Regions from separate parts of the Homo sapiens genome. Here regions 1, 2, 3, 4, 5 and 7 are each linked to region 6. Evidence: fine-mapped expression QTL. A gene starts in region 6. Each other region holds a variant in brackets. All regions are shown on one strand. Distances are from middle to middle.

The links. PIP is the estimated chance that this variant, and not a neighbour inherited with it, causes the effect. A credible set is the group of variants that fine-mapping cannot tell apart.
Region 1: its variant is the best candidate, but not a certain one, in a credible set for the expression of PTPN12 in whole blood (TOPMed, PIP 0.69).
Region 2: its variant is the best candidate, but not a certain one, in a credible set for the expression of PTPN12 in whole blood (TOPMed, PIP 0.58).
Region 3: its variant is the best candidate, but not a certain one, in a credible set for the expression of PTPN12 in monocytes (TOPMed, PIP 0.54).
Region 4: its variant is the best candidate, but not a certain one, in a credible set for the expression of PTPN12 in T cells (TOPMed, PIP 0.76).
Region 5: its variant is the best candidate, but not a certain one, in a credible set for the expression of PTPN12 in caudate (GTEx, PIP 0.67).
Region 7: its variant is the best candidate, but not a certain one, in a credible set for the expression of PTPN12 in whole blood (TOPMed, PIP 0.58).

Annotation. Positions count from the first base shown.
Region 1 is chr7:77,494,889-77,499,154 of GRCh38, forward strand. No RefSeq gene overlaps it. Among named protein-coding and RNA genes, the nearest start is that of PTPN12, 40 kb to the right of the region's middle. The variant C/T (reference allele first, on the strand shown) is at 2,437.
Region 2 is chr7:77,459,528-77,463,793 of GRCh38, forward strand. It overlaps the pseudogene GCNT1P5. Among named protein-coding and RNA genes, the nearest start is that of GSAP, 45 kb to the left of the region's middle. The variant G/A (reference allele first, on the strand shown) is at 2,239.
Region 3 is chr7:77,668,682-77,672,947 of GRCh38, forward strand. The region is part of intron 1 of APTR (Alu-mediated CDKN1A/p21 transcriptional regulator); the gene reads right to left. Among named protein-coding and RNA genes, the nearest start is that of APTR, 25 kb to the right of the region's middle. The variant G/A (reference allele first, on the strand shown) is at 2,490.
Region 4 is chr7:77,506,749-77,511,014 of GRCh38, forward strand. No RefSeq gene overlaps it. Among named protein-coding and RNA genes, the nearest start is that of PTPN12, 28 kb to the right of the region's middle. RefSeq lists an enhancer at 1,938-2,913. The variant T/C (reference allele first, on the strand shown) is at 1,809.
Region 5 is chr7:77,480,672-77,484,937 of GRCh38, forward strand. No RefSeq gene overlaps it. Among named protein-coding and RNA genes, the nearest start is that of PTPN12, 54 kb to the right of the region's middle. The variant C/T (reference allele first, on the strand shown) is at 2,379.
Region 6 is chr7:77,535,203-77,539,468 of GRCh38, forward strand. PTPN12 (protein tyrosine phosphatase non-receptor type 12) reads left to right here and starts at 2,093. Exons shown (of 18, transcript NM_002835.4): 1 at 2,093-2,443. The coding sequence starts at 2,345. LOC124901681 (a long non-coding RNA gene) reads right to left here and starts at 1,747. Exons shown (of 3, transcript XR_007060395.1): 1 at 1,169-1,747; 2 at 1-1,079. RefSeq lists enhancers at 1,173-1,222, 1,393-1,612 and silencers at 1,683-1,982, 2,233-2,442, 2,583-2,632.
Region 7 is chr7:77,608,210-77,612,475 of GRCh38, forward strand. It overlaps PTPN12 (protein tyrosine phosphatase non-receptor type 12), which reads left to right. Exons shown (of 18, transcript NM_002835.4): 10 at 2,556-2,633; 11 at 2,739-2,837. Among named protein-coding and RNA genes, the nearest start is that of PTPN12, 73 kb to the left of the region's middle. The variant C/T (reference allele first, on the strand shown) is at 1,940.

The DNA.
Region 1 (4,266 bases), 40 kb before region 6:
TGAGGACATGAGATTTCGGAGGGGCCAGGGGCAGAATGATATGATGTGTCCCCACCCAAATCTCATCTTGAATTGCAACTCCCACAATTCCAATGTGTCGTGTGAGGAACCTTTTGGGAGGTAATTGAATCAATGGGGGCAAGTCTTTCCCATGCTGTTCTTGTGATAGCAAATAAGTCTCATGAGATCTAACGGCTTTAAAAATGGGAGTTTGACTGCATAAGCTCTCTCTTTGCCTGCCACCATCCACATAAGATATGACTTGCTCCTCCTTGCCTTCCGCCATGATTGTGAGGCATCCAAAGCCATGTGGAACTGTAAGTCCAATAAACCTCTTTATTTTGTAAGTTGCCCAGTCTTGGGTATGTCTTTATCAGCAGCATGAAAACAGACTAATACAGCAGCCTATCATAATGATTAAGAGTACTGTGTAGAGCCTCCTGGATCATTTAGATGAACATACTTTGATTTTCAATGTGAGTGAAAGAGGAAGCATTAGAGGGTTCAAGTAGAGAAATGAAGTGATCTGACTTATAAAAGGATCACTGGATGCTCTGTGGAGAATAGATAGTACTGAAGCAAAGACAGGAACAAGAAGACCAAGCAAAAAATGGTATGATCAAGAGGTGGTGATGATTTGGAGCTGGGAGTGGCAGTGGAGGTAGCAGGCAGTGGACTTCAATCTTTAGCATCTGAGGCAAAGACAGCAAACAGCCTATAGAGAATGTTCAACCAGCTCCCACAATTACAGAAGGTCAGATCCCTTTAATAAATCCCTTTCTTAATAAATAGAAGAGGGAGAGAGGAGTGTGGGGGGGACAGGAATAGAAGATGGGAAGGGAGAGGGAATATTTATGTGTGTATATATATATATAATACATATTATATTTATGTATGTATGTATCTCTCCTCATAATTCTACTCTCTGGATCCTGAATGATACAGGAAGCGAGGAAATAAAAGAAAGATAATCTAATCACTGATTTGCTGGGAGTAGGGAAGTCTAAAGGAGATGGAAGAATTAGGCATGACTGAATTGGATGACTGGATGGATGGTGGTGGCATTCATGACTCATGTAGTTTTGTTGAAGCTTTTTACTTTTAAAGTGCATGTCTTCACCTCGCTGTAGGTAAAAATTATCTATAGATTTTATGAAAATTTTAGTTGAATATAGAATTTAATGTGTATACATCTCAGAGAGTAAATTAATAGTAAGTATAACCCTTCCTTAGGGCAGGTGGATATGCACGTTATATATAAATACTTAAGGACCATCTAAAGATGAGATATGTTCATGAAAATTCTAGGGCATGTACAGAACAGGCATATATGTCATAACATCAGTAAGTACTGCCTGAATAAATGAAAATAAGAGATCTCAGAAGGTTTGTGAGTCTTAAAAATGTGTTGTATTCTATATATATATATATATATATATATATATTTTGTTTACTACATGGGATACTCCAAGAGGGACAGAAATTACTAAGTCTGTTACTGTTCACATTACCCCAAAATGACAAAGTCAATCTGCATTTCTTCAGCTTTCATAGAAATCTATTTAACATTATGTTCTTAAACTTTTGCCAAAAGCCTATGTGGAAATGACCACATGAGGAATGCTTTGGTATTTTTTATAAAATTGCAATTTGATGATAATTGTGTTTGTTCAGCGTCCTTAACAAGATCTATGTGGTAAATTCTTGTTAGAGTTGAATGCTAGGCAATATTTCTTTCTTTCTTTTTTTTTTTTTTTGAGATGGAATCTTGCTCTGTCACCCAGGCTGGAGTGCAATGGCACGGTCTCGGCTCACTGCAACCTCCGCCTCCCGGGTTCAAGCAATTCTCCCTGCCTCAGCCTCCCAAGTAGCTGGGATTACAGGCACCCACCACCATGCCCAGCTAATTTTTGTATTTTTAGTAGAGACAGGGTTTCGCCACGTTGGCCAGGCTGGTCTCGAACCCCTGACCTCAGGTGATCTGCCCACCTCGGCCTCCCGAGGTTTTCTGCTAAATTTTAACAGCCATTCACTCTTAAGTTTTCAGGTTAGTAATTCACTATCCCTACACCTTCCAGTCCTACCACCTTATTCCTAAACTGAATGTTGTTCTTTTTCTCTTGTGTTTTTTTAAAAAAAATGACTCTATATTTTATTATAAACTACTTCAAATCTTTTCAGAATGAATACAGATAAATAATTATACATTGTGAAACTTAATCTAAATTAAAATTTTCTTAATTTAGCAATTCTTATAATAGAAGCTAAAATTACGTCTGGGTACATAATGTTAAAGCTTAAATTTGAAGAAAACTCTTGATAAACAATACTCTAACAGAAGAGGTAAATGCTGGGAATGTCTGTTTATTTAGTAATCTACTGCCATACTGTAGTGGCAGTATAATGGTTGTTAACGTCAAACATGTCAAACAACTC[C/T]GAATGGAAATATGCCCACCGTTAACAGGATGCCACGTATTCCAAATACTCTATTTCTTTAGTTATTGCTATAAATCATTTTATTTTACACCAAAATTTTCAAAAATCTTAATTCTTCCCTGGATTTATAGTAGAAAAAAATAAATCTGAAATATTTCTGGGTGTGGTCTCTGAAGGTTTTATCTGGATGTAGTCTTGTGAGGTTGATTTTGATTAACTGAATATTTGAAGCCATCTTGAAATATGATCCTTGTCTGTCCAAGAGCTATGTAAATTTTTGTTGTCCTTGAGAACACCCCAGTGATCACTTTATTGGAGCATTCTCCTCGACTCAGCCTTAGTGACATGCATGCGTCAGAAGGGCTTTAGGTACAGAAGCCACTGTGTAAGAACTAGAGCACCTGTGCACTCACACGTAGACATTTCCATGATACTCTTGGTTCTAATAAAATTAGAAGTCAAATCTTCTGATCACATCATTTGTGAACTCTGAACTGGCTACATATGAATAAGAGAATATCAAGCATTAATACGAGTGGTGGGAAGTATAAATGCAAGAACAAAAATGAGAAGAAATTGCCCTCTGAGTGCTGACACCAGATCATTTTTGGCCTCTCTTAAATAAGCTAAGCCTCTTCTGGGCCAGTTCCAAGAGCACCATGAAAGAAGGCCAGTTCTAAAATTAATACTCTGCTGATCATTTAATCATTTCATAAAAATTGAATGATCAAGTGATTGAAAATAAATGGGCCAGGCGCAGTGGCTCACGCCTGTAATCCCAGCACTTTGGGAGGCCGAGGCAGGCGGATCACGAGGTCAGACAGAAGATCAGAGACCATCCTAGCTAACATGGTGAAACCCCGTCTCTACTAAAAATACAAAAAATTAGCCGGGCGCGGTGGCGGGCGCCTGTAGTCTCAGCTACTCCGGAGGCAGAGGCAGGAGAATGGCGTGAACCCGGGAGGCGGAGCTTGCAGTGAGCCGAGATCGCCCCACTGCACTCCAGCCTGGGCGACAGAGTGAGACTCCGTCTCCAAAAAAATAAATAAATAAATAAAAATAAAAATAAATAAATAAATTATCTTCATTTTCTTTTTGGCTTTCTATTCAGGAACCCATGTTACTTAAGCAACTCTATTCTTGCAAAAGAAAGTCAATCATACCCCTGACTTAGAAAATCATTAAAACACATACATGTGCTGAGAAAAGTATGCTGGTGAGGAATACCTGAAAGATATGATATCAATTCATTCCTTTAGATAAGCAGTCACAGACACGGATTAATTTAGCCCTTGGAATTATTTTGTTTGACCCACACAGTATTTAAAAATAATTTAGCCAACACTGAAAAATTGAGGTGTCAGATATAGAAGATCTGGCAACATTGTAATGGTATCCCCACACGGCAACAACTGCTGGAGCTAAAACATGGCTGCTGCTCCATTTAGTTAGGGCCGGGGTTTTCCAGTGGTCACAATCCGCATACACACACTCATACACACGCACATGTACACCATCATCTCATAGGCAGCAGGCTTTACTCACTAAATTACTTACCTGGCCCCTGTAGTCATCTGCATTTGTGATTCCTATAAATATCCTAGTCAGTCAGATCAGCAGAGAACTGCATGCCAGGATCACATCATGCTGCTGCCGTTTGTGTCAGTATTATTTTTACCAGTTTTACTCTGGTGGTTTTCATCAGCCTATATTTAGGGATATTAGCAAACAACCTTAAAACCTCTGTATTCAGCTATAGTTAGTGTAGACTGCATGTTCTTTACAAAGCAGTATCTTCTGTGAGAATCTTCAGGAGAAATTTTCTTCTGG
Region 2 (4,266 bases), 76 kb before region 6:
TTGTTTACAAAGCACTTTAACTACCATTACTTCATTTGAACCTCACAATAGACCCATTAATATCATAATTCTTAACTTACAGATGAAGAAACCCAGTCTCAGGGAGGTTAAGAGACTTACCCAAGGGCATCCAAGCCACTAGCAAGAGCCAGAGCTGGAAACAGAACCCTCACTTCCTGGTCCACTGCTTTTTTTTTTTTTCTTAACTAAGTGTATTTTAATGCTATAGCAACTATCTTTCAGGATCAAGATAAAAGGCGTTTCAGAAATATTTAAGATTGCTATTATTTAGCAATTAACAACATAAATAAAATAAATGTCATTAATGCATTAAATCATATACAAACCCAATAAAATTGTAGTATTCTTTCAAATTCATTATCTCCTTCAATGAAACAAAGCTTCCTATGCCAAGTTCCAGCTTAGGAAGGATTTGTCACAAAATAAAAGTACATTGTTGATCTAAGGAATAGGATCGAAAGGACTCTGAAGAGTCAAGTGATGGAATGGCGACCTAAACACCCAACACGATGGAGTCCACTGCTTTTTATACTGTACCAACCTGCAGTCTTTTCCAGGCATAGAAGAGGCCACAGTAGGAGAATGGTTTCCTTTGTGTGGGAATTAGCCAGGTCTGCAAGACCAAAGGTAGAAAGCAGTACCTATGGAAAGGTACCAGCTTGGGAATAATAGTAAATATTGGGAATTATGGTAAATATTGTTGTCCCTATTTAACGTTGGAAAAAACAAGGAACAGAGGTTTGTTCTAGGTAAACAGTGGCTCTTCAATTATTCAGGAGTGGCTTGCCATTTAGGCTTACCTTGATCTTTTTCACTATTCTCTTTTATGGCTCTTGCTTATCTCCTGGCCTGATGGTTAGCACCTCCACCAGAGGGCAGGAAGAACAGGAAGAGAAGCATTGCAACCGGTTTGATCAAAAAGTTGCAATAAGAAAACGTAAGTCATTATCTTAATTTAGGCTTTGGAGTCTTTTAGATTTCAGTTACTAATGTGACCTTTGCCAACATTCTCCTAGATAAATCTACAATAATCAATGCAGTAAAATGATTTCCTATAAATAAAAATCATCTACTTCTAATTGTATTGTTCAATACAATATTACATATATTGAACCTTATATAACATTCAAATTTATTTAGAACTTATTACATGCACTAACTTTGTATAACATTTTTAACCTGTTTGGAATTGGTGTGAACTTCTCCAAAGGCATATCAAAAGCTCCGGAGCTTAGAAAATAAAATCTATCCTGGCCGAGCACGGTGGCTCACACCTGTCATCCCAACATTTGGGGAGGCTGAGGCAAGTGGATCACCTGAGGTCAGAAGTTCGAGACCAGCATGGTCAACATAGTGAAACCCCGTCTCTACTAAAAACACAAAAATTAGCCAAGCGTGGCGCTTGAACCAGAGAGGCAGAGGTTGCAGTGAGCCAAGATCGCGCCGCTGCACTCCAGCCTGGACGACAGAGTGAGACTTCGTCTCAAAAAAAAAAAAAAGAAAGAAAAAAGAAAAAAAGTCTCCTCCACAGCAACTTCCTCAGCATTTCAAACAACAATCAGGGACTTCTGTTGTTGTTGTTAAGGGCAGTCTTCTAGGCTTCAAGCACCAACAGATGTTCCTCCTTCATGGCCTTGAAGGTTGTCAGTTTGCATGTATCAGAAGTGCAAAGGTATATTAAAATAAAGAACAGCACATTTAGAATTAAGGAAAGTCTGGATCATTTAGTGTTCTGATTCCAGGTGACATCTGGCACCCATTACCGTACCCGTGCTTTACTCTGCATGGAGAGAAAGTGCTGGAGTGAAAGTCTGGCCCTGGAGGTGCAAGAAGGTGCCCTACTGTGCTGCTTCTGCCTGACAGAAGCCTTGAGGGGCTGAGGGTGTGGTTTTTGCATTCCTGTGGAGTGGTTCAGGCTGACCTCAACTGCATGAAGGACCTCTACACAATGAGTACAGACTAGGGTACTTGATGAATCTTTATGGTATGGATTTTGCTATTCAAACCAACCTGGAAATTTTCAGGAAGCTCAAGTCATTAATGGGTGGAAACAACCTGGAAACTGAGACGATGCTAGTCAATAAGGAAGAAAAGTGGAAAAGAGGGCATGCAGTTATTAGTGGAAAGCTGACAAACATGGGGACTGTCAAAATGTGTCCTCCACTCGAAACATCTCTTTTTTCAGGCAGTGCCTATTTTGTGGTCAGTAGGGAGGAC[G/A]TGGGGTATATGCTAGAGAATGAAAAAAATTTAAAAGTTTATGGAGTAGGCCCAAGACACATACAGCAAGTATCTCTAGGCCACTGTTCAAAGGATTCCCGAAGTCCCCAGCTCACTCTCCTTAAGCCGTAAGTATGACTCTTCTGACATGCATGCAGCTTCTAGGTTTGTCAGGTGGCAGCACTTTGAAGCACTCTTTACCCACCTGCAGTAGGGCCCATGTGCGCTCAGTGTGCCTTTTCGGAGCTGGCACCTTGAACTGGACACTGTGCAAGCACCATTTGTTTGCCAATAAGCCTGACACGGGTGGTGACCTCTTTGCCATCCAGTGTTTAGATGAGCATCTGAGACATACTTTGGAGACTTTAAAACACTGGCCACTATAGGCAATTTTAGTAATAAGAAGAAGAATGCGCAAAATTGACACTATCTGGTTCCTCTTATTTGTCAATAAGCACCAGGAAAATTGTACAGGGCCCTCTTTGGAGCAAGGACTCTAAGTCTTTGTGTCAGAAAAGCTGCCTGGTTTCTGCAGAGCACAGTTGGCTAGAAAGGTTGGAGCATTAAACTTTCATCTAGAGTTAAAGTGAGGGGGAAGTATAATAAAAGTAGCTGTGAAGCCAGGGCCGGTAGCAAGTCATTCTGAAGAGAATGGGCTGAGGCGGCTGGAGAAGAGGCTGACACAAAACAATCAGCCTGTCGAAAGAGCTCAGGGGCTGGATGCAGTGTCTCACCCTGGTAATCCCAGAACTTTGGAAGGCTCAGGCAGGAGGATTGCTTGAGCCCAGGAGTTCTAGTTGCCAGCCTGGGCAACACAGGGAAACCCTGTGTCTACAAAAAAATTTGTAAAAAATTAACTGGTCATGGTGATGTGTGCCTGTAGTCCCAGCTACTCAGGAGGCTGAGATGGGAGGATTGCTTCAGACCAGCAGGTTGAGCCCCCAGTGAGCAGTAATCATGCCATGGCACTCCAGCCTGGGTGACAGAGACCCTGTCTAAAAAAAGAAAAGAAAACGCCAGGTGCAGTGGCTCACGCCTGTAATCCTACCACTTTGGGAGGCTGAGGTGGGCAGATCACCTGAGTTTGGGAGTTCAAGACCAGCCTGACCAACATGGAGAAACCCCGTCTCAACTAAAAATACAAAATTAGCCGGGCGTGGAGGCGCATGCCTGTAATCCCAGCTACTCAGGAGGCTGAGGCAGGAGAATCGCTTGAACCCAGGAGGTGGAGGTTGTGGTGAGCCGGGATTGCACCATTGCACTCCAGCCTGGGCAACAAGAGCAAAAACTCTGTCTCCAAAAAAAAAGAAAAGAAAGAAAAAGAGCTTAGGGACTTAACAACGTTAGAAGATTTCACCTGTGCCAAAATTATTTAGAGAATTTTAAATGTGACAATTGTCCTGGTATGAATACATTTACAGCAAAAAATAATCATAAAGATATAGTTTATCTCATATATTTGTTAAAATAGAGATTTGATTTTACTCTAAACAATCCTTGTAAATAATTTCTTTTCTGCTATACCATTGTGCTGTGTAGTGTGTCTCTGTATATCATCCCAGAAAGCTTAAATTGGCTTGATTTAATAGTAAAGAATTTTTTAATTAAAAAAATTTGAACTAACAATTGTCATAATTAATCTCATTTTAAAGTTAGTCCATGTTGAACTTTTCTGGACTATTTATGCATTGATTATTTTAGCATACATTTACAGAATGCCTACTGCGTGCCAGGCATTATAATAAGTGCTGAGGGAAAAAGATAAAGAAGACGCAGATCTTTCCTCTAGAAGGTCTCAGTCTAGAGAAAGACAGACAATTGCATTACAGAGCAGTGAAGAAGTTAAGATTTAGAGTAAGACGAAGTATGCAATGGTGTATGCATCAGAATACGCAACAGGCATAATGGGCTAACACCAAACCGGAGGAGTGGGTACAAATCAAGAAAGGAGATGGTCGCTGAGTAAAGGATGAATAAGAGTTTCCCACATGAAGTGAGGAAAGTCAGTCCAAGAAAGAGGGGCAGTAT
Region 3 (4,266 bases), 130 kb after region 6:
GAAAAAAAAAAAAACACCCTGCAACAATTTTATTAGTAAATGAAGAAAATAATACTACAAAATCATTTTGTTAAATATTCACTTAAGGCTGGGCATCATGGTGGCTCATGCCTATAAACCCAGCACTTTGGGAGGCCGAGGCAGGGGGATCACTTGAGCCCATGAGTTCGAGACTACCCTGGGCAACATAGTGAGACCCCATCTCTACAAAAATTAAAAATTAAAAAAATTATTCTGGTGTAATGGTAAGTGCTTGTAGTTCCAGCTACTAGGGAGGCTCAGGCGGGAGGATGCTTGAACCTGGGAAGTCTTGGCTGCAGTGAGCTCTGATAATGCCACTGCACTCCAGCCTGGGCAACAGAGTGAGACTGTTTCAAAAAAAGAAAAGCCTTGGGTCCAGTGGCTCACACCTATAATCCCAACTCTATGAGAGGCTAAGGTGGGAGGATCACTTAAGCCCAGGAGTTCAAGATCCGCCTAGGCAACAAGCGAGACACTGCCTCTATAAAACATAAAAAATTAGCTGGGCAGGCGTACACCTGCAGTCCCAGCTACTTGGGAAGCTGAAGTTGGGGGGGAGGATCACTTGAGCCCAGAAAGCTGTGGCTGCAGTGAGCTGTGTTCGCACCAATGCACTTCAACCAGGATGACAGAGTGAGACCCTGTCAAACAAAACAAAAAACAAAAAGAAAAACAAAAGATGTTCACTTAATGTTAAGAATTCAACAATAGTGAAATCAGTTATGTAAGAATTGCCAAAATGTAGCATATCTAATTTTTAAATATCATGATTTCTCCCCCAGCCTTTACTCACAACACCAATAAAACAAGTACACATTATTTGAAAAGGCATAAAATTTATTGTTAAAAACATAAAATTGGTAGATTCCCTCCATGTTATTGATATAAGGAATATTTTCACTTTCCTTTGAGAGTTTTCACTTGGCTATCATAACTGTTAGGACCCTACTAACAATGTTCAGAGACTACTGTTTTTGTGTACTGTAGATGTTGATGCACTCATTCACAATTTTCTCTTCTGTGGGTATGGGTGAAGTTTCCTTTATTTATTGATTTTTTTAGAGATGGGGGTCTTGCTTTGTTGCCCATGCTGGAGTGCAGTGGCATGATCATACCTCACTGCTGTCCCGAACTCCTGGGCTCAAGCAATCCTCCCGCCCCATGGGTGAAGTTTTAAAAAGTGAATTTGAAATACAAAAGTAATTCAAAATGGCCATAAAAGTAGGCTGTGGTTTATGTATAACTCCCTGCATGGAACTCCTTTCTCTCTCAGGAAATTATATTGGAATGCATGTGAGAAAGTGATTTCTAAAATGCCTCATAATGGTCTGTGTGGGTATACATACATATACACAGATAAATAATTCAAAACTTTGGTACCTTATTGTAGATGTTTGTTCCTTGAACATCTTGCATACCAAGATAAATTATTTTGGATCACCTAATATCAAAAAGTGACATACCCAAACCAAACCAAAACAAAAAAACAAAATGTGGATAGGCATGGTAGCTGACGCCTGTAATCCCAGCACTTTTGGAGGCTGAGGTGGGAGAACTCAGGAGTTTAAGACCAGCCTGAGCAACATAGCAAGACCTCGTCTCTGCTAAAGAAAAAATAAAATGGGAGGTGGGGTGCCAGCCACAGTGGCTGATGCCTGTAATTCTGGCACTTTGGGAGGCCAAGGCAGGTGGATCACTTGAGGTCAGGAGTTCAAGACCAGCCTGACCAACATGGTGAAACCCCATCTCTAGTAAAGAAATACAAAATTAGCTGGGCATGGTGGCACACGCCTGTAATCCCAGCTACCTGGGAGGCTGCTTGAACCCAGGAGGCAGAGGTTGCAGTGAGATTGCACCATTGCCCTACAGCCTGGGCAACAAGAGCGAAACCCCGTCTCAAAAAAAAAAAAAAAAAAAAAAAAGAAACAAAAAAGTGACATACCAATGTGTTATTTCACTAATGTTGCAAGTGCTGAGCAAGAGGACATCTGAGCAGATGATGTTGATGAGGTATCCTCTGAATGTGAGATTTCCTAGGGTGAAGGTAAAACAAGCGCTAAGGGGACTTTTACATAGGTTAGGGTACTTACCTGTCTGGAAATACTGCAGTATCTGAGTGAAGAAGTTCAATGAGAAAATAATTGTTAAAGCTAGTCTAAATGCACCTTATGCCAACCATAGTTACCGTGAGAGTTATTGGGAACATCTATTTCTCCGTAACCAGGAGACAATTGGGAACTTGGCTTTTAGCACATTTTACTTTTTTTTTTTTTTTTTTTTTTTGAGACGGAGTCTTGTTCTGTCACCAGGTTGGAGTGCAGTGGCACGATCTTGGCTCACTGCAACCTCCAGCGGCTCACTGCAACTTCCGCCTTCCGGGTTCAAGCAATTCTCCCGCCTCAGCCTCCCAAGTAGTTGGGACTACAGGTTCATGCCACCAAGCCGGGCTTACTTTATTTTTTTTTTAA[G/A]TTAATTAATTTTTTTTTTTTTTTTTTTTACTAGAGACGGGGTCTCACCATGTTTTCCAGGCTGGTCTCAAACTCCTAGGCTCAAGTGATCCTCCCGCTTCAGTCTCCCAAGGTGCTGGGATTACAGGTGTGAGCCTGTGTGCCTGGCCACATTTTACTTTTCTTAGAGCATATTTAACACTTGGGTTTATATTTCACTATTTGTGTATCTTTCTCTCCTTCCTAGATTGTAACATCCCGAAGGGCACTGGTTGTGTATTTTTACTCTTAGAATCCCCCACAGTGCCTCACATCCAGTGTCCAGGTTTGTTTAGAATTTGGAACTGGGGAAGAACCAAGGAAGAGGCCCCAAAGATGGACACTAATGCTTTTTTTTTTTTTTTTTTTTTTAAAGAGACATGGTCTCACACTGATGCCCAGGCTGGAATGCAGTGGTGCAATCATAACTCACTGCAGCCTTGAACTCCTGGGCTCAAGCAATCCTCCTCTCTGTCTCCTGAGGAGTGTGCCACTATACCTGCCTTATTTTTTAAACTTATTTTTTGTAGAGACAGGGTTTCACTATGTTGCCCAGGATGATGTTGAACCCTTGGCCTCAAGCAATCCTCCCACCTCCAGCCTCCCAAAGCACTGAGTTGTAGTTGTGAACCACCACACCCAGCTCTCTTCTTCTATAAACTATGCCTGAGATAGCTGCTTTTGGGAGCATTGTTGGTGTTTGCCAGTTTCTAAGCATGATTCTCCAGCCAGCTGAAAATCCTCTGATATAGTTCTGACAAATTCCCCTTTGCTTACATTAGCTGAAATTGGTTTCCCTTGCTTACAACCAAAGAACTGTGATAGCAGAAAACAAAGGCAGTTGGCCCGGCGCCGTGGCTCACACCTGTAATCCCACCACTCTGGGAGACTGAGGCAGGTGGATCACCTGAGGTCGGGAGTTTGATCTCCCAGCCTGGCCAACATGGTGAAACCCTGTCTCTACTAAAAATACATAGTTAGCTGTGCATGGTGGCACGCGCCGGTAGTCCCAGATACTCTGGAGGCTGAGGCAGGAGAATCGCTTGAACCCAGGAGGTGGAAGTTGCAGTGAGCCGAGATCGCACCACTGCACTCTAGCCTGGGCCACAAGAGCGAAACTCTGTCTCAAAAAACAAAAACAAAGAGAAAACCAAAGGCAGCCATCTTTCTCCGGTTTTCAGCAATCTCTTCTGGTACCTCTCCATCTAAATCTGTCTTTCCAGTTCCCACCACCAAAGTACTTGGAATTGTTCAAGCCTTAGTTCTTGAGGCCCCAAACACTACATCCACATTGTTCATGGGGCAATTTTTAAATAAAAAATGTGTGAAAGAATTCCTCTTAGAAATTTAACATGTAACTTTTAATATGCTACTGAATTGCAGCAAACATGCGGAAATACTGGCAAAGACAGCTGTAGATGAAACAGCCAAGGGAGAGCCAACAATTATGGTTGGTGTTAAGTTGGATGAATTGAAATAAGAGACAAATACTTCATAGAATTGTATTAAGGCATATGCATGAAAAAGGAGGGAAGCAATTATTTTTGCTTTATTTGGCACTGGGCAGGCTTCAGTTGGAACAAACTATATTTAATTTTACATGTCATACTATATAAAGAGAAAAAACTTGGAGACTGTTCAGAGAACAGCAACTGATGAAAGGTTTGTGAAATTAGACCTATGAGAAATTGTGAAAAGAACTGGGCATGTTCAGTCAAATGCAGGACATCCAGGTGTGATGAATGGTGAACAATTAACT
Region 4 (4,266 bases), 28 kb before region 6:
TCTGGGTTCAAGTGATCCAGTCACCTTGGCTTCCCAAAGTGCTGGGATAAGCATGGTGAGCCACTGTACCTGGCCATGCTTTTCTCTTTCTTATAGGTAAGCAAAGTATGGCAGTTCATGGAAACCGTCTTTATAAGAGAGCTGATGGGTCCTTTGCCCCCGATTATTCTTTTCTTCCTTCAGACAGACTGGAATATGGTTGTGATGGCTGGAGTAGCCCAGCTGAAACAAGAGGTGACCTTGGGAATGGAAGCTACAAGAGTACCAGGCCACCTCAGCTCTAGACTAAGCCATTGTTTTTTGTTTTTTTTTTTTTTTTTTTTTTTACTCACAGCTGAAGCTATTCCTGACTGATACAGGAATCTAGTGGTAAGTTCTTTTTTCAGTGGGTTTAAGGTTGGTTTCATATCTTTAAGCTGGACAGATTGTCAGATAAATGACTTAAGAGTCAGAACTAATTACCTTTGTACAAATGGAAGGACATCATGAATCTGTATCATTGTAAGTAAAATACTATGACTTGATGATGACTATTTGCTGAGATACTGTGACTTTTCTAATATATGATGATAATAACAGTAATGACACTTATATTCTCCACGGCTGTTGAGATTAACACTTTTGGCCATAGTACATTGATTTAGGTTTTAAAACATGACACTAGAAAGACTAAAATAATTAATTTAATTAATAAGTTTAAACATGAGAAAAAACAAACTAGTTAAATTTACTCAATTTGGTCAAAATGTCTGTTTTCAATATGCTATATCCCTTGATAGTTTTCTGTTACCTGAAGATATTTTCAAGTTGTCTTTTTATTTTTTTAATTACAGACATACATAGTTGTTTTATAGTCTGTGGATCTGTTTCTAATATCTGCTGTTTCCTTTGAATCTTGCTTACAGGGCCAGACTTCCTTATGTACCTCAATATCTTTGTGCATTGCTCATTGTAATTGAAAATTTGTTTTATTTTTATTTGGGGGGGGGGGCGGGGTTAGGCTCCATTCTACAAAACAGAATGAAAAGGCCAAGATGGGCGAATTACCTAAGGTCAGAAGTTTGAGACTAGCCTGGCCAACATGGTGAAACCCCGTCTCTACAAAAGATCGAAAACTCAGCCAGGCATGGTGGCAGGTGCCTGTAATCCCAGCTACTCGTGAGGCTGAGGCAGGAGAATCACTTGAACCCAGGAGGCAGAGGTTGCAGTGAGCAGAGATCACACCACTGCACTCCAGCCTGGGTGACAAGAGCAAGACTCCATCTCAAACAAAAAAACAAAATATCAACCCTGGCCAGGCACAGTGGCTCACGCCTGTAATCCCAGCACTTTGGGAGGCTGAGGCAGGCGGATCACGAGGTCAGGAGATCAAGACCATCCTGGCTAACATTGGTGAAACCCCGTCTCTACTAAAAATACAAAAAATTAGCCAGGCGTGGTGGCGGGCACCTGTAGTCCCAGCTACTCAGGAGGCTGAGGCAGGAGAATGGCGTGAGCCTGGGAGGCGGAGCTTGCAATGAGCTGAGATCACGCCACTGCACTCCAGCCTGGGCGACAGAGTGAGACTCCGTCTCAAAACAAAAACAAAAACAAAACAAAAAAACAACCCCATTAAAAAATGGTCGAGTTTCCATGGTGAGATGGTCAACAAGCCTGTAAGTTCCTCAGCTACGACTACCAGGTACCTCGGGTTCCTCCCTCCTCCGAGAGACCGCCGAGGTGCGGGCTGTGAGAGAGGGAGCGTGGAGCCTCCGAGGCCGAGGACTCGGTCCCAGTTTGGACAGATAGAAGATCCTGCCGAGTGCCTG[T/C]GATTGCAGGCACGCGCCGCCACGCCTGACTGGTTTTGGTGGAGACGGGGTTTCGCTGTGTTGGCCGGGCCGGTCTCCAGCCCCTAACCGCGAGTGATCCGCCCGCCTTGGCCTCCCGAGGTGCCGGGATTGCAGAGGGAGTCTCGTTCACTCAGTGCTCAATGGTGCCCAGGCTGGAGTGCAGTGGCGTGGTCTCGGCTCACTACAACCTACACCTCCCAGCCGCCTGCCTTGGCCTCCCAGAGTGCCGAGATTGCAGCCTCTGCCCGGCCGCCACCCCGTCTGGGAAGTGAGGAGTGTCTCTGCCTGGCCGCCCATCGTCTGGGATGTGAGGAGCCCCTCTGCCTGGCTGCCCAGTCTGGAAAGTGAGGAGCGTCTCCGCCCGGCCGCCATCCCATCTAGGAAGTGAGGAGCGCCTCTTCCCAGCCGCCATCACATCTAGGAAGTGAGGAGCGTCTCTGCCCGGCCGCCCATCGTCTGAGATGTGGGGAGCGCCTCTGCCCCGCCGCCCCATCTGGGATGTGAGGAGCGCCTCTGCCCGGCCGAGACCCCGTCTGGGAGGTGAGGAGCGTCTCTGCCCGGCCGCCCCGTCTGAGAAGTGAGGAGACCCTCTGCCTGGCAACCACCCCGTCTGAAAAGTGAGGAGCCCCTCTGCCCGGCAGCCGCCCCGTCTGGGAGGTGAGGAGCCTCTCCGCCCGGCAGCCACCCTGTCCGGGAGGGAGGTGGGGGGGGTCAGCCCCCCGCCCGGCCAGCTGCCCCATCCGGGAGGGAGGTGGGGGGTCAGCCCCCGCCCGGCCAGCCGTGCCATCCGGGAGGGAGGTGGGGGGGTCAGCCCCCCGCCTGGCCAGCCGTGCCGTCCGGGAGGGAGGTGGGGGGGTCAGCCCCCTGCCCGGCCAGCCGCCCCGTCCGGGAGGTGAGGGGCGCCTCTGCCCGCCCACCCCTACTGGGAAGTGAGGAGCCCCTCAGCCCGGCCAGCCACCCCGTCCAGGAGGGAGATGGGGGGTCAGCCCCCCCACCCGGCCAGCCGCCCCGTCCGGGAGGGAGGTGGGGGGGTCAGCCCCCCGCCTGGCCAGCCGCCCCGTCTGGGAGGGAGGTGGGGGGGTCAGCCCTCCGCCTGGCCAGCCGCCCCGTCTGGGAGGTGAGGGGCGCCTCTGCCCGGCCGCCCCTACTGGGAAGTGAGGAGCCCCTCTGCCCGGCCAGCCGCCCCGTCTGGGAGGGAGGTGGGGGGGTCAGCCCCCCCCCCGGCCAGCCGCCCTGTCCGGGAGGGAGGTGGGGGGGTCAGCCCTCCGCCCAGCCAGCCGCCCCGTCTGGGAGGTGAGGGGCGCCTCTGCCCGGCCGCCCCTACTGGGAAGTGAGGAGCCCCTCTGCCCGGCCAGCCGCCCCGTCCGGGAGGGAGGTGGGGGGGTCAGCCCTCTGCCCGGCCGGCCGCCCCGTCCGGGAGGCGAGGGGCGCCTCTGCCCGGCCGCCCCTACTGGGAAGTGAGGAGCCCCTCTGCCCGGCCACCACCCCGTCTGGGAGGTGTGCCCAACAGCTCATTGAGAACGGGCCAGGATGACAATGGCGGCTTTGTGGAATAGAAAGGCGGGAAAGGTGGGGAAAAGATTGAGAAATCGGATGGTTGCCGTGTCTGTGTAGAAAGAAGTAGACATGGGAGACTTTTCATTTTGTTCTGCACTAAGAAAAATTCTTCTGCCTTGGGATCCTGTTGATCTGTGACCTTACCCCCAACCCTGTGCTCTCTGAAACATGTGCTGTGTCCACTCAGGGTTAAATGGATTAAGGGCGGTGCAAGATGTGCTTTGTTAAACAGATGCTTGAAGGCAGCATGCTCGTTAAGAGTCATCACCAATCCCTGATCTCAAGTAATCAGGGACACAAACACTGCGGAAGGCCGCAGGGTCCTCTGCCTAGGAAAACCAGAGACCTTTGTTCACTTGTTTATCTGCTGACCTTCCCTCCACTACTGTCCCATGACCCTGCCAAATCCCCCTCTGTGAGAAACACCCAAGAATTATCAATAAAAAAATAAATTAAAAAAAAAAATGGTCAAAGGACATGAACAGAGACTTCTCAAAAGAATATACACATGTGGCCAACAAGCATATGAAAAACACTCAGTATCACCAGTTAATAGAGAAATGCAAATCAAAATCAAAACCAGGGTGAGATACCATCTCGCACCAGTCAAAATGGCTATTTTTAAAAAGTGAAAAAATAACATGTTGGTGAAGTTGTTAAGAAAAGAGAATGCTTATACACTGCTGGTGGAAATGTAAATTAGTTCTGCCACTATGGAAATTAGTTTGGAGATTTCTCAAAGAACTTAAAACAGAACTACCATTCAACCCAGTAATCTCATTATTGGGTATATATCCAAAGGAATATAAATTATTCTACCATAAAGACACATTTCCTATCTCAAAAAAAAAAAAAAAAAGACACATGTACTCACATATAC
Region 5 (4,266 bases), 55 kb before region 6:
CACAAGCCACCGCACCTGGCCCTTTCCCTCTCTTTTTAAAAATACATTTTCCAAATCCATTTTTTTGAGATTAGACTTATTCTATTTTTCTTTAAGGGATTAATGTTTGAAAAGTTAGTGAATTAAGGCCAGGCGCGATGGCTCACACCTGTAATCCCAGCACTTTGGGAAGCCGAGGCAGGCGGATCACGAGGTCAGGAGTTTGAGACCAGGCTCGACAACATAGCTTAACCCCGTCTCTACTAAAAACACAAAAATTAGCCAGGCATGGTGGTGGGCACCTGTAATCCCAACTACTTGGGAGGCTGAGACAGGAGAATCGCTTGAACCCGGGAGTTGCAGGTTGTAGTGAGCCAAGATCATGCCATTGCACTCCAGCCTGGGTGACAAAAGCAAAACTCCATCTCAAAAAAAAAAAAAAAAAAAGGAAAGTTATTGAATTAAGTACAAATTGAAATTGAGTTCAAACTTAGTTGATTTACATTTTTCTCAAAATAGATTTAGAAGGCAGAACACAAAGCATAAAAATAAATCATCTGGCCGAGCGTGGTGGCTCACGCCTGTAATCCCAGCGCTTTGGGAGGCTGAGGCGGGTGGATCACCTGAGGTCAGGAGTTCAAGACCAGCCTGGTCAACATGGTGAAACCCCGTCTCTACTAAAAATACAGAAAGTAGCCAAGCATGGTAGCGGGCATCTGTAATCCCAGCTGCTTGGGAGGCTGAGACAGGAGAATCTCTTGAACCGCAGAGGCGGAGGTTGCAGTGAGCCGAGATTGCACCACTGCACTCCAGCCTGGGCAACAAAGAGCAAAACTCTAACTCAAAAAAATAAATAAATAAATCATCTACTTCAGAGGAAATAGATGACTATCAGTCATTGTGTTAAAACTATAGAAATTTGATAGAGTTCAAAATAACATTTAATATGCTGTCTTGTCAGGACCATTCATATACTCCTCTTTCACTCCCACCTTCTGCCCTAGATCAAGAACAACCCCATTCACTCCTAATCAAATGACCAACCTGGCCTTTGGCCTTAATAGGAAGTAAAAGTGTCTCTTCCGGCATTGTATCAGTGGTATGTGCCGCACCTACCACACCTGCAGCATAGTCTTAGGATGAGGAAGAAGTTTGTGGGTAGCCCAGGTGGGTAGAAAGGAGATAGAGAGAGCCACATGTAAAGAACAGTTGCATCTGATGTCACCTGTTCCTGGCTGAACCTGAATTTTATCAAGACCATAAAGTCCTCTGAGCCCTAGCTGGTTCACAACATATTTTCAATCTAGGTTTTTTTTTTTTTTTTTTATCACTAAGTCCACAGAAATTTTTACAATCCTTGTCAGGTGGTAAATATTCTATTAAACCGTGTTTGTATGGAAATAACCTGATTTGGATATAGAAGAAACAGAATTGAATTAGTTGAGCAACAGGTTTGCTTGGTTCTCATGGTTACATTGCACAACCTGGGCAAGGCATCCCATGACATAAAAGATTGTTATAATTCAACCCGGAAATCCGGCCAGACCTCCCAGGTACTTACAAAAGCAGTTCAGCCTCCACAACATAGGAATGATTTATCTGATTTCATGACACATGGCCTCTTGGATCCTGTGACCATTTCTCAACTGGACAATATATTAAATAAATTAGCACTTGCTTTTTGATAGTTTCATAAAGAAAATTTATTGGTTTTTTAAAAATAAAAACAGAATCCAAAATCATAACTTAAAATGAATGCATGCACACAAAGTTGAAAACATAGAAATGATGCAACAAGTAACAGTACCATTTGTATGTTGTTTGAAAGAATAGCATATTTTAATTATTACATGTAAAAAATTTCACATTCCTAATAAAGAGGGTAAAAGTGAAACATTCAAGACCTCCTTTTATCCTTTTTTGTCTTTTTGAGACAGGGTCTCTTGCTCTGTTGCACAGGCTGGAGTGCAGTGGCATGATCACAGCTCACTGCAACCTCAACCTCCCAGGCTCCAGCAATCCTTCCACCTCAGCCTCCCAAGTAGCTGGAACTACATGCAGGTGCCATCACACCCAGCTAATTTTTTTATTTTTTTGAGACAGAGTTTCATTCTTGTCGCCCAGGCTGGAATGCAATGGCGTGGTCTCAGCTTACTGCAACTTCTGCCTCCTGAGTTCAAGCGATTCTCCTGCCTATGCCTCCCAAGTAGCTGGGATTACAGGCACCCACCACCACGCCCAGCTGATTTTTTTTTTTTTTTGTATTTTTAGTAAAGACGGGGTTTCACCATGTTGGCCAGGCTAGTCTCGAACTCCTGACCTCAGGTGATCTGCCTGCCTTGGCCTCCCAAAGTGCCGGAATTACAGGCGTGAGCCACCATGCCCTGCCAGTGAAACCC[C/T]TTCTCTACTAAAAATACAAAAATTAGCTGGGCGTGGTGGCTCGCGTCCGTAGTCCCAGCTACTCGGGAGGCTGAGGCAGGAGAACCGCTGGAACCAGAATCTCAGAGTGAGCCGAGATCATGCCACTGCACTCCAGCCTGGGAGACAGTGAAACTCCATCTCAAAAAAAAAAAAAAAAAAAAAGAAAAAAAGAAAAAGAAAAGAGTCAGGAAAGTAGCACATTTTAAAATGAGTCTAATAGTGTTACGTAGAAATAATATAAAATTTACCAATTATGAGGTTATCCTTCGTTGGTTCTCAGTATTGGTTAGGGCTTAGTTATAGCAATGTTTCTGCTTTGACTTTTCACATTTAAAAATGTACACATTTTACAGAAATATAAGAAAAATAAATGCTTGTAGATACGGTACAGATTAATTGGAGATTCCGGGAAAAGCAACCAAAATCTTCAAAGGACATATAATCAGACCTATAAGAACAAATTTTAAAAACTGAGTTTCTGCTCTACTCTGCATTTCAGAACTGTTAGCATGAACTGTGATAAAACAGAAAGCTTTTCAGATGAAGCTATGCAAATATTTATAGAATCAAAGATAATTTGGACTATAGTATCTAATAGTAATAATAGACATTATTGGCTTCATGAATATAATCTGCTAAACACTTTATTATTACTTTTTTTTTTTTTTTTGAGACGGAGTCTCGCTCTGTCGCCCAGTCTGTTAGCGCAGTGGCGCGATCTCGGCTCACGGCAAGCTCCGCCTCCCGGTTTCACGCCATTCTCCTGCCTCAGCCTCCCGAGTAGCTGGGACTACAGGCGCCCGCCACCACGCCCGGCTAATTTTTTTTTTAATTTTTAGTAGAGACGGGGTTTCACCGTGTTAGCCAGGATGGTCTCAATCTCCTGACCTCTTGATCCACCCATCTCAGCCTCCCAAAGTGCTGGGATTACAGGCGTGAGCCACTGCACCCAACCTTTTTTTTCTTTTTGACTGAGTGTCACTCTGTCGCCCAGGCTGGATGTAGTGGCGCAATCTTGGCTCACTGCAACCTCCACTTCCGCGGTTCAAGCTATTCTCCTACCTCAGCCTCCCGAGTAGCTCGGACTACAGGCGCATGCCACCACGTCTGGCTAATTTTTTGTATTTTTTTTAGTAGAGACGGGGTTTCACTGTGTTGGCCAGGATGGTTTCAAACTCCTGACCTCAGCTGATCCACCCGCCTTGGCCTCCCAAAGTGCTGGGATTACAGGCGTGAGCCATCGCTCCTGGCCCTGTGATTTCTTACAAAAGTGTTCTGTAGTTCTCCTTGTAGAGATCTTTCATCTCCTTGGTCGTATTCCCAGGTATTTTATTCTTTTGTGGATATTGTAAATGGGATTGTATTCTTGAGTTGGCTCTAATTTTTAACATAATTGTTGTGTAGAAATGCTACTGATTTTTGTACATTTAATCTTGTATCCTGAAACTTTACTAAAGCCATTTTCCAGTTCCAGGAGTCTTTTAGCAGAGTCTTTAGAGTTTTCTAGGTATAGAATCATATCGTCTGCAAAGAGAGATAGTTTGACTTTTTCTTTTCCTATCTGAATGTCTTTCTTTCTTTCTTTTGCCTGACTGCTCTGGCTAGTATTTCCAGTACTATGTTGAATAGGAGTGGTGAGAGTGGGGATTCTCGGTGAGAGTGGGTATCCTTGTCTTGTTCTCAAGGGGAATGCTTCCAGTTTTTGCCTGTTTAGCATGACGTTGGCTGTGGGTTTCTCAGAGATGGCTCATTACTTTAATGTATGTTCCTTTGATGCCTCTAGCCTGTTGAGGGTTTTTTAATCATGAAACGATGTTAGATTTTATCAAAAGCTTTTTCCAAGTCTAATGAGATGATTATACGGTT
Region 6 (4,266 bases):
CTCAGCCTCTGGAGTACCTGGGACTACAGGCGTGCACCACCACACCCGGCTTTGTATTTTTAGCAGAGACAGGGTTTCACCATATCGGCCAGGTTGGTCTCGAACTCCTGACCTCAAGTGATCCACCCAACTCGGCCTCCCGAAGTGCTAGGATTACAGGTGTGAGCCACTGCACCTGGTCTGAAGTGCATATTTCTGGAGTGGATGTATTAGTTGGATTATTTTAACAGAAATATTTTCCTTTTTTTGAAGAAGTAAATAAACTATATCCTGTTACACCTATTTTCTTTTCTTTTTTTTTTTTTTGAGACAGGGCCTCACTCCCGTCGCCCAGGTTGGGGTGCAATGGTGTGATCACAGCTCACTGCAACCTCCGCCTCCCGGGTTCAGGTGATCCTCCCATCTCGGCCTCCCAAAGTGCTGGGATTACAGGCGTGAGCCACCGCGCCCGGCCTACACCTATTTTCTTCAATGAGTTTTTCACTAAATTCCATAGTGCTCCTAACTTTCATCTGAGAAAGTATTCTACCACTGATATTTCCTATTATAACCAAATTCGCTGACCAATCTGCTCTGTAAAAAAAGGTTTGTGGGTATAAATGACGAAAGTCAGTTCATGGATCAAATCCTTCAGTTCTGTCACATTGTGAGAGGCCACTGTTGTGAAAGTAAAATAACTTCTAGTTACGGCTCTGCTAAGAATACGCTGGGGGATGTCAGGAAGTCGCTTTATTTGTAAAATGATGAGTTAGACCAGAATATATTCTCTGATAGAAGTTTACAAAGATGAATAAAGATTTATAGGCTAGGCGCGGTGGCTCACGCCTAAAATCCCAACACTTTCGGAAGCTGAGGATCCCTAGTGCACAGGAATTCGAGATCAGCCTGGGCAACCTGGTGAGACCCCCTTCTCTACCAAAAATAAATAAATAAATAAATAATAAATTTTTAAAATGTATTAGCTGGGCTTGGTGACGTAGTGAGGCAGGAGGATGCCTTGAGCCCAGGAGTTCAAGGCTGCAGCGAGCCGTGATCATAGCACTGCACTTTGGCATGGGAGATAGAGCAAGACCTTAGCTCTAAAAAAAAAAAAAAAAAAAAATTAATAGATTTATAAAGTCCATTCTATGGAGGAAAGTCTCTTATTCAGTTATGAACTGCTGCGAACCTAAAGGCAGGAAGGCAAATTCCCTTCAGTTCGGCAAACACGAAGACCCCACATTCGCGTCGTCTGTGAAGAAGGCACTCCGAACCTCAGGCGCTCACTCGCCAGGTTTAAGAGGATGAGCAAAGAATAAAAGTCCTCTCACCCAGGAAGCGTTTCGCTTCCCTTAGCTGGAGCCACGCTCCAAGGTGCCAAAGCCTAATTGCTGTCCACTCTCACCAATCCGTTAGCAAGATGAGCATCTACCTGCTGCGAACGTGGCGGTGACACTACTACAGCTCCCAGCCTGCCTCCCGCCCGCCCCCACTCCTGGACTCCACAGACCGTGACTTGTAGTCCCAGCCCACGGCTGGCGGCGGTGCGGGACTCCTGAAAACTGCTTTTCCTCCCTAGTAGGCGGTGAGACCGCAAATTCCATCAGAATCCTACTCTGACCCACTAGGGCTTGGCCCGCTCAGAGTCGCATTCCCTCCTCCAAATGAACCAACTCTCCTCCCAGCGATACTCCGACCTCTGAGCACCCCGGGCGGGGCCACGCCCCGGAAATGGAGTCAGGTCTCCAGGCCGCCCGCTGAAGTGCCTTCCAGCCACTCCAAGCGGGGCTGGGGCCGGCGGGGCGGGCTTGGGGGCGTGGCCGGGAGGCGGGCGGGGATGCATCTGCGGGCGCAGCGCTTGGGGCGGAGCCGCAGCGCGAGGCCGCGCATCTGGGTGGCGGCGGGGACGCGCCCGTGGGGAGAGGCGGCTGCGGCTGCGGCTGCGGCTGCTGGCGGGGGGTGGGGGGGAGGAGGAACCGGGAAGGGGGGGCAGGGCGAGCGGAGAGCTAGCTGTGTTCCTGAGGCGGCGGCGGCGGCGGCGGCGGCGGCGGCGTCTCCGACGGAGGAGGAGGGCGGGGAAGGAGGATGGAGCAAGCTGGGGGTTGGGGTTGGCGCTAGCGCAGCGGCTCGCCTGGTACTGTGGGAGAGCGGCGGCTGCTCCTGGAAGTTGTGGTGTCGGGAGCCCAGCCGGTGCCGCCGCAGCCGCCGCCTAGGGCGGTGGGGAGGAGGAGGGAGCCGCGGGGCTTGGCGGGGTCGGGAGGGAGGGACGTGCTGGGGGAACGAGCTGGGGAAGACGGAGCGGGCTCTGTGCCGGGCGGGCGGGCGGCGGGGGGGCCAGCGACCGCAGCCGGGGGGACGCGGGAGGATGGAGCAAGTGGAGATCCTGAGGAAATTCATCCAGAGGGTCCAGGCCATGAAGAGTCCTGACCACAATGGGGAGGACAACTTCGCCCGGGACTTCATGGTGAGTCTCTCCCCTCGCTGTCGCGTTTTCTTGCCGGCGCCGGAGCCCATCGCCGCCTCTCCCGGCCGGGCCGCCAGTGCTTTGTGTACCTCTGTGAGGAGAGGGGCGGAGGGGGCGCGCACCAGCCGGGTGAGCCGGGTGGTCTCGGAGGCCAGCGGGAGGCGAGAGCGCCTCCCCCCGTGGCCTCCTTTCTTCTCCCATGTTCGCGACCCCCGCGCGGGTTCCCGGGACGCGAAGGGAGCGGCCGCGCGGCCGAGCCCGCAGCCTGCACCGTGGCTCGCGACCACCTATTGTTTACCGGGCCGGGAGCCGTAGGCAAGTGAGGTGCAGGCCGGGGGGGGGGGCTCGCGTTTCCACACCTCCCCGCGCAGTTCGCTCCTCCCAGGAGGGTCGAGGCAAGGTATCTGGCTGTGACCGGGAGGAGTGCAGATCGTGGCTGACAGAGGAACGGGGGTATTGAGGTTGGCACTAACTCCTGGGATCCCTTTGCTCTAGCTGGTCTCAAAGCGGGCAGGGTAGGACTTAGGCCGTTTCTGGGGTCGCAGTCATGATCTCCAACGCTTGGGAAAGGATTGCCCATAAGGAATCTCATGGGTTTACCTAATTTCCATTTACCCGCGTCCCGCTTCTCCTCTCCTGAGGCCCAGGTTTGAGGTGGTCTTGGGGTCCGTGTGACTATAGGTTCAGGGGATAAGTGTGGGTGGGGGAATTATCCTGAAGGAAGCCAGCCGACTTCGGACTCCCCAGGGGATATTGCCGAAGGCGGAGGGGATGTGACTATCACTTCCTATCCGGGGTGGGGGTGGGGAACTTGGGAACAATAGTCCTGGTGGGGCGGAGGCGACGCTACGGGCCGAAGCCCTGAACTGGGAGATAACCTTCCCAGCGCCCCCCCGCCTCCGCCACCCCCTACTTTCCGCCCTCTGCTTGTGCAGGCAGTCTTGAGAGGAGGTGAAGGTTAAAAGTCTTGTTCATGAAATTGCTCTAGATACACTATTGCTTTAGCACACTGTGAGGGGGTCAGATCCGAAGGCGTGAGACCAGAAGTCGACTTCCTACGTTACCCACCCCCCCAACCCCCGCCCTTTTTATTTTTCTGCTGGACAATGTTCCCTCTAGGGTTGTTTCCCGGCTTAGGAGGCGGTGGTTGCGGCTGCTGCTCCTACGGATATTGCGCAAGACTGGGGCGTTGGAAACCCTGTAGGTCTGGGGAATGAAAAAGGAAGTGGGACTTTGGGAAGTGGTTGCTCCTTAGTCTTGGCGGGGGTTGGGAATGGGAAATAAGCTGGGGAAAATTTTTATCTTGGGTAAGGTACACCTCGAAGAATAATCACTTAATTCTGAAATCTGATTATGAGAAGGATACACAGTTAATGCCTGTAAAATGAATGGGCAGCAAACATTGGCTAGTTTTTATTTTTTGTTTAAAAAGTACAGTAGTTTTTATGGTGGAGGTGATATGACTTAGTAGTGAATACTTTTTCACGTTTTAAAGAGACTGGTCTAGTAAAGCTTTAGCGTTAAATTTTTAACAGCTTATAAAATAGGCCCTTGACCATACACAGTATTATACTAGCATCGTTGAGCTTTGTGATTCCCGCCTCCCCAGACCAATAATAGAGGACGGAAGTAAAGTTTTCTCAGTATCTTTTGAAGATTGAAAATATAAGTTAAATAATCTAACTTATTCCTTATTAAAAATAAAAATATTGCTTATATTTAAACATTTGCTCTTGATATTTAGCCTATGTATTTTTGAAAAATTACTTTTTGATCTGAAAGGGTTAAGGAAAACGGCATTTTCCCTTTTTACTATTGAGAGT
Region 7 (4,266 bases), 73 kb after region 6:
CTTGGTCAAAATACTAATCCCATAGTGCCTCTATTTCTTTATCAGAAAATAGGGGTCATAGTAGTAGTAATGCATAAGAATTAAATAACTTTTGTGAAGTTCTTCAGAACTATGTGGTAAATTGTAAGTACTCAGTTTATTGTTAGTGTTGATTACTGTTGCTGTTGTGATTGTTGTTCCTACTACTGCTTTTTCCAAGAAATAGTGTTTGATACTGTGGATGATACAGAGATAAATAAGATACAGCCTTCATTATAGATTTGAAAAACAAGTCTCTTCATTATGTATACATTTGATTCTTTTGCTGGTTCCATAATGTGTTCATTTCTAGAGAGGCGCCTTTAATCCTTCATAGCTTTATAGTTTCCATGAATTGTTCATCTTTGTCTTGTACAGAGTAGAATTAATAAAATGTTTATTTTTTCTTTTTCTTCCTTCTTCCCCTTATTTCTCTTTTTTCCCTGCCATCTCTCCATTTTTTATTGTTGCAAGGAAATATTTACATGTTAAACAGTTCCTTAAAAAGCCCTCTGGGGTTAAATATTTTTTTCCTCAAAAACTATAATCATCTAATTCTCAAATGAAAATGCTTAAGTGAACAAAATTTAACTGGAATTCGATCACATTTTAACATAAAAGTCAAAGATTAAAATTGGAATGAGAAGGGACACATAAATGAATGCTAGCAAACAAAACAAACATTTGGTCATTTTAAAAGTTGTGTATTTTGGATAGGTGCCATGGCTTATGCCATAATTCCAGCACTTTTGAAGGCTGAGGTGGGCGGATCACCTGAGGTCAGGAGTTTGAGACCAACCTGGCCAACATGGTGAAACCCCATTTCTACTAAAAATACAAAAATTAGCCAGGCGTGGTGGCCGGCGCCTGTAATCCCAGTTACTTGTCAGGCTGAGGCAGGAGAATTGCTTGAACCTGGAAGGCAGAGGTTGCAGTGAGCCGAGATTGTGCCATTGCACTGCAAACTGGGTGACAGAGCAAGACTCCGTCTCAAAAAATAAAATAAAATAAAAGTTGTGTATTTTGAACATAGTTCTCTCTCTCTCTTTTTTTTTTTTTTTTGAGATGGAGTCTCACTCTGTTGCCTAGGCTGGAGGGCAGTGGTGTAATCTCGGCTCACTGCAACCTCTGACTCTCAGGTTCAAGCGATTCTCCTGCCTTAGTCTCCCGAGTAGCTGGGATTACATGCACGCGGCACCATGCCTGGCTAATTTTTGTATTTTTAGTAGAGATGGGGTTTCACCGTGTTTCGGGCTGGTCTCAAACTCCTGACCTCAGGTGATCCGCCTGCCTTGGCCTCTCAAAGTGCTGGGATTACAGACATGAGCCACTGCACCCGGCCTAGTTGTTAAGTCTTCATGTAAAAATCTTGGCTGGGCGCGGTGGCTCACGCCTGTAATCCCAGCACTTCGGGAAGCCGAGGCGGGCGGATCACGAGGTCAGCAGATTGAGACCACCCTGGCTAACACGGTGAAACCCTGTCTCTACTAAAAATATAAAAAAAATCGCCAGGCGTAGTGGCGGGGGCCTGTAGTCCCAGCTACTCCGGAGGCTGAGGCAGGAGAATGGCGTGAACCCGGGAGGCGGAGCTTGCAGTGAGCGGATATCACGCCACCGTACTCCAGCCTGGGCGACAGAGCGAGACTCCGTCTCAAAAAAAAAACAACAAAAAAAAAACCCAAAAATCTTATGATGTATATAAGGACTTCCAAGCAGCAAACCTGGAAATCATTTTTAACCCTTCCATCTTAATCACTCCAAAATATTCTTGTTGATAACAGTTATGATATTTCTGCTTCTGTAAACCTCCGCCAGTTTCTCACTCTTTCAGACTGTCCTCTTCCTTGATACAAAAATTGTGTGAATATCAGATCTTCTCATGTCAACATTGCCTATTGCAGTAGTCGCAATTCCATATACA[C/T]AAAAGAATTGTCTAGGTCGTTTCATAATTAGTTCCCCAACTTGGAGCCAAAGGATCTATATTTTTACCTAGGTCTTTTAGCTGGTCCTTATATAGCCAATCCAGGAGATACTGGCCAATAGAATAAATTCAGTCTCTTTATTATGTTCACAGTCTGATCCTAAATATCCTTATCTTCTCTCCTCCTTTGAGTACCTTCTCCTTCTTTTAGTCTTAGGCTTTGTTTACATCAAACTTCTCAATTCCCCACATAGATTATACATTGAATCTGCTGTGCTTATGTATATTTCCTTCACTTTTTATGGGATAACCTTCTTTTGATATCCAACTATGTTGTAGCTGCACACACTCAACAGTTAGCCATAGCCTCTTTATTCCCTGTATACTGCAGTCATACTTTGGCTGGACATAACTGTCTCCCCATCTTGAATGCTGAGGGTCAAGAACAGTTTTGTTTCCACAGTGCCAAGCACAGTGTCTGAGATGCATTAAGTGGTGTTCAATAAATGTTTGCAGTAAACCAGCAGGTATTTAAGTTTTATGTGAAAAGCTGAAGAAGATTTTACTATTTTCTGAATAGATACACAAAGTTGATGTATTAAATTTTCTGTTTTAGAAAATACCAGAGGAATTTAATGTATTTAATTTAATACAAGAAATGAGAACACAAAGGCATTCTGCAGTACAAACAAAGGTATAGTTGTTTGTTTCCCTTTATAAACTGCTATTTTATAAATGCTTTCTTCTTTTTTAAAATGTTGTTTTCATTTTGTTTTTTAATCATTTTTCTCCTTCATAGGAGCAATATGAACTTGTTCATAGAGCTATTGCCCAACTGTTTGAAAAACAGCTACAACTATATGAAATTCATGGAGCTCAGAAAATTGCTGATGGAGTGGTAGGTGTTCTTGGTCTATTAATTTTAGGAAACTTTTACTCTTTGTTAAGATGTAATATTTAGCCTTTTTTTTGTTGTCTTGTGTTTTGTCTAACATGAGAAGAATATCCAGGACACTTAACATTTTTACTTAAACTCATTTCCTTCTTATTCGTATCTGTATTATGATGGCTATTTAATGACTCCGATATAAGGTAAATTATGTTCTAAATGAAATAAAGTTAGGAAAGATCTCATGTCAAAAATCATATAATTCGTTAATGTTTTACTTTTTTAAAAAATAATTGCATTGTTCTCTTTACTCTTCCCTTCCACCCCCACCCAAGTAATTCTGCATTGATTCTACTTGAATTTCATTTTGTATAAAGTGTTTTAGTTATTTGTGTATATGCTTTTCTTTTCTTTTCTTTTTTTTGAGACAGAGTTTCACTCTTGTTGCCCAGGCTGGAGTGCAATGGCACAGTCTCAGCTCACTGCAACCTCTACCTCCCAAGTTCAAGTGATTTTCCTGCCTCAGCCTCCTGAGTAGCTGGGATTACAGGCGCACGCCACTGTGCCCAGCTAGTTTTTGTATTTTTAGTAGAGACGGAGTTTCGCCATGTTGACCAGGCTGGTCTCGAACTCCTGACCTCAGGTGGTCTGCCCGCCTTGGCCTCCCAGTGTGCAATGTGCTGGGATTACAGGCATGAGCCAACACTCCTGGCCTTGTGTATATGCTTTTCAGTTAAGCAGAATTAAAGAGCCACAGTTAACTCCCTTTTGTTGTGTTATAATTCAGTGTTATTTTAGCCTTGTAACATCTTACTGGATATTCAACTTCTAGACCTGACAAAAACACTGTATTCTCTTAGTATTCTCATTTCTGCCTTTGTTTTCTAACCAATTGTCTTGCTTCAATTCTATATATAACCACCTTGTCCCTGAAGGTGCTGAGATTTTTTTTTTTTTTTTGTAGAATTTGTTTACATCTTTGTCATTGAGTCTATGATAACTATTACATTGTTAAACCAAGTATGAGAAAATAAGTTGCAAAATTTATAACCTTCATTTTCCTTTTCTCCCTTTAAATGGTTTTGTCAGTTCCCAGAATATTTGTTTGAATTTTCTTGGTTTTCCAAATGACAGATTTATTACCAAATGCTGATCTCAGTTTGTTAGGATAATCTAATATCGGTCCATGAGTTTTAGGAAATATGCATTTCTTTTATTAGCCAAGTGACAATTTCACGTTTTTAAGTTTTATGTGACATCGTTCTTATTCCTTTATTAACATAGGAATTATTGTGCAAGGAAATCCTCCTACAATGCCTTTAGCTTAATTAAATCCTATTATGACATGCTCTGAATCTAGCCAAATATTTTATAATGTAGAATCAAATGTGTTTTTGTTTTGTTTTATTTTGTTTTTTGAAATGGAGTTTCACTATTG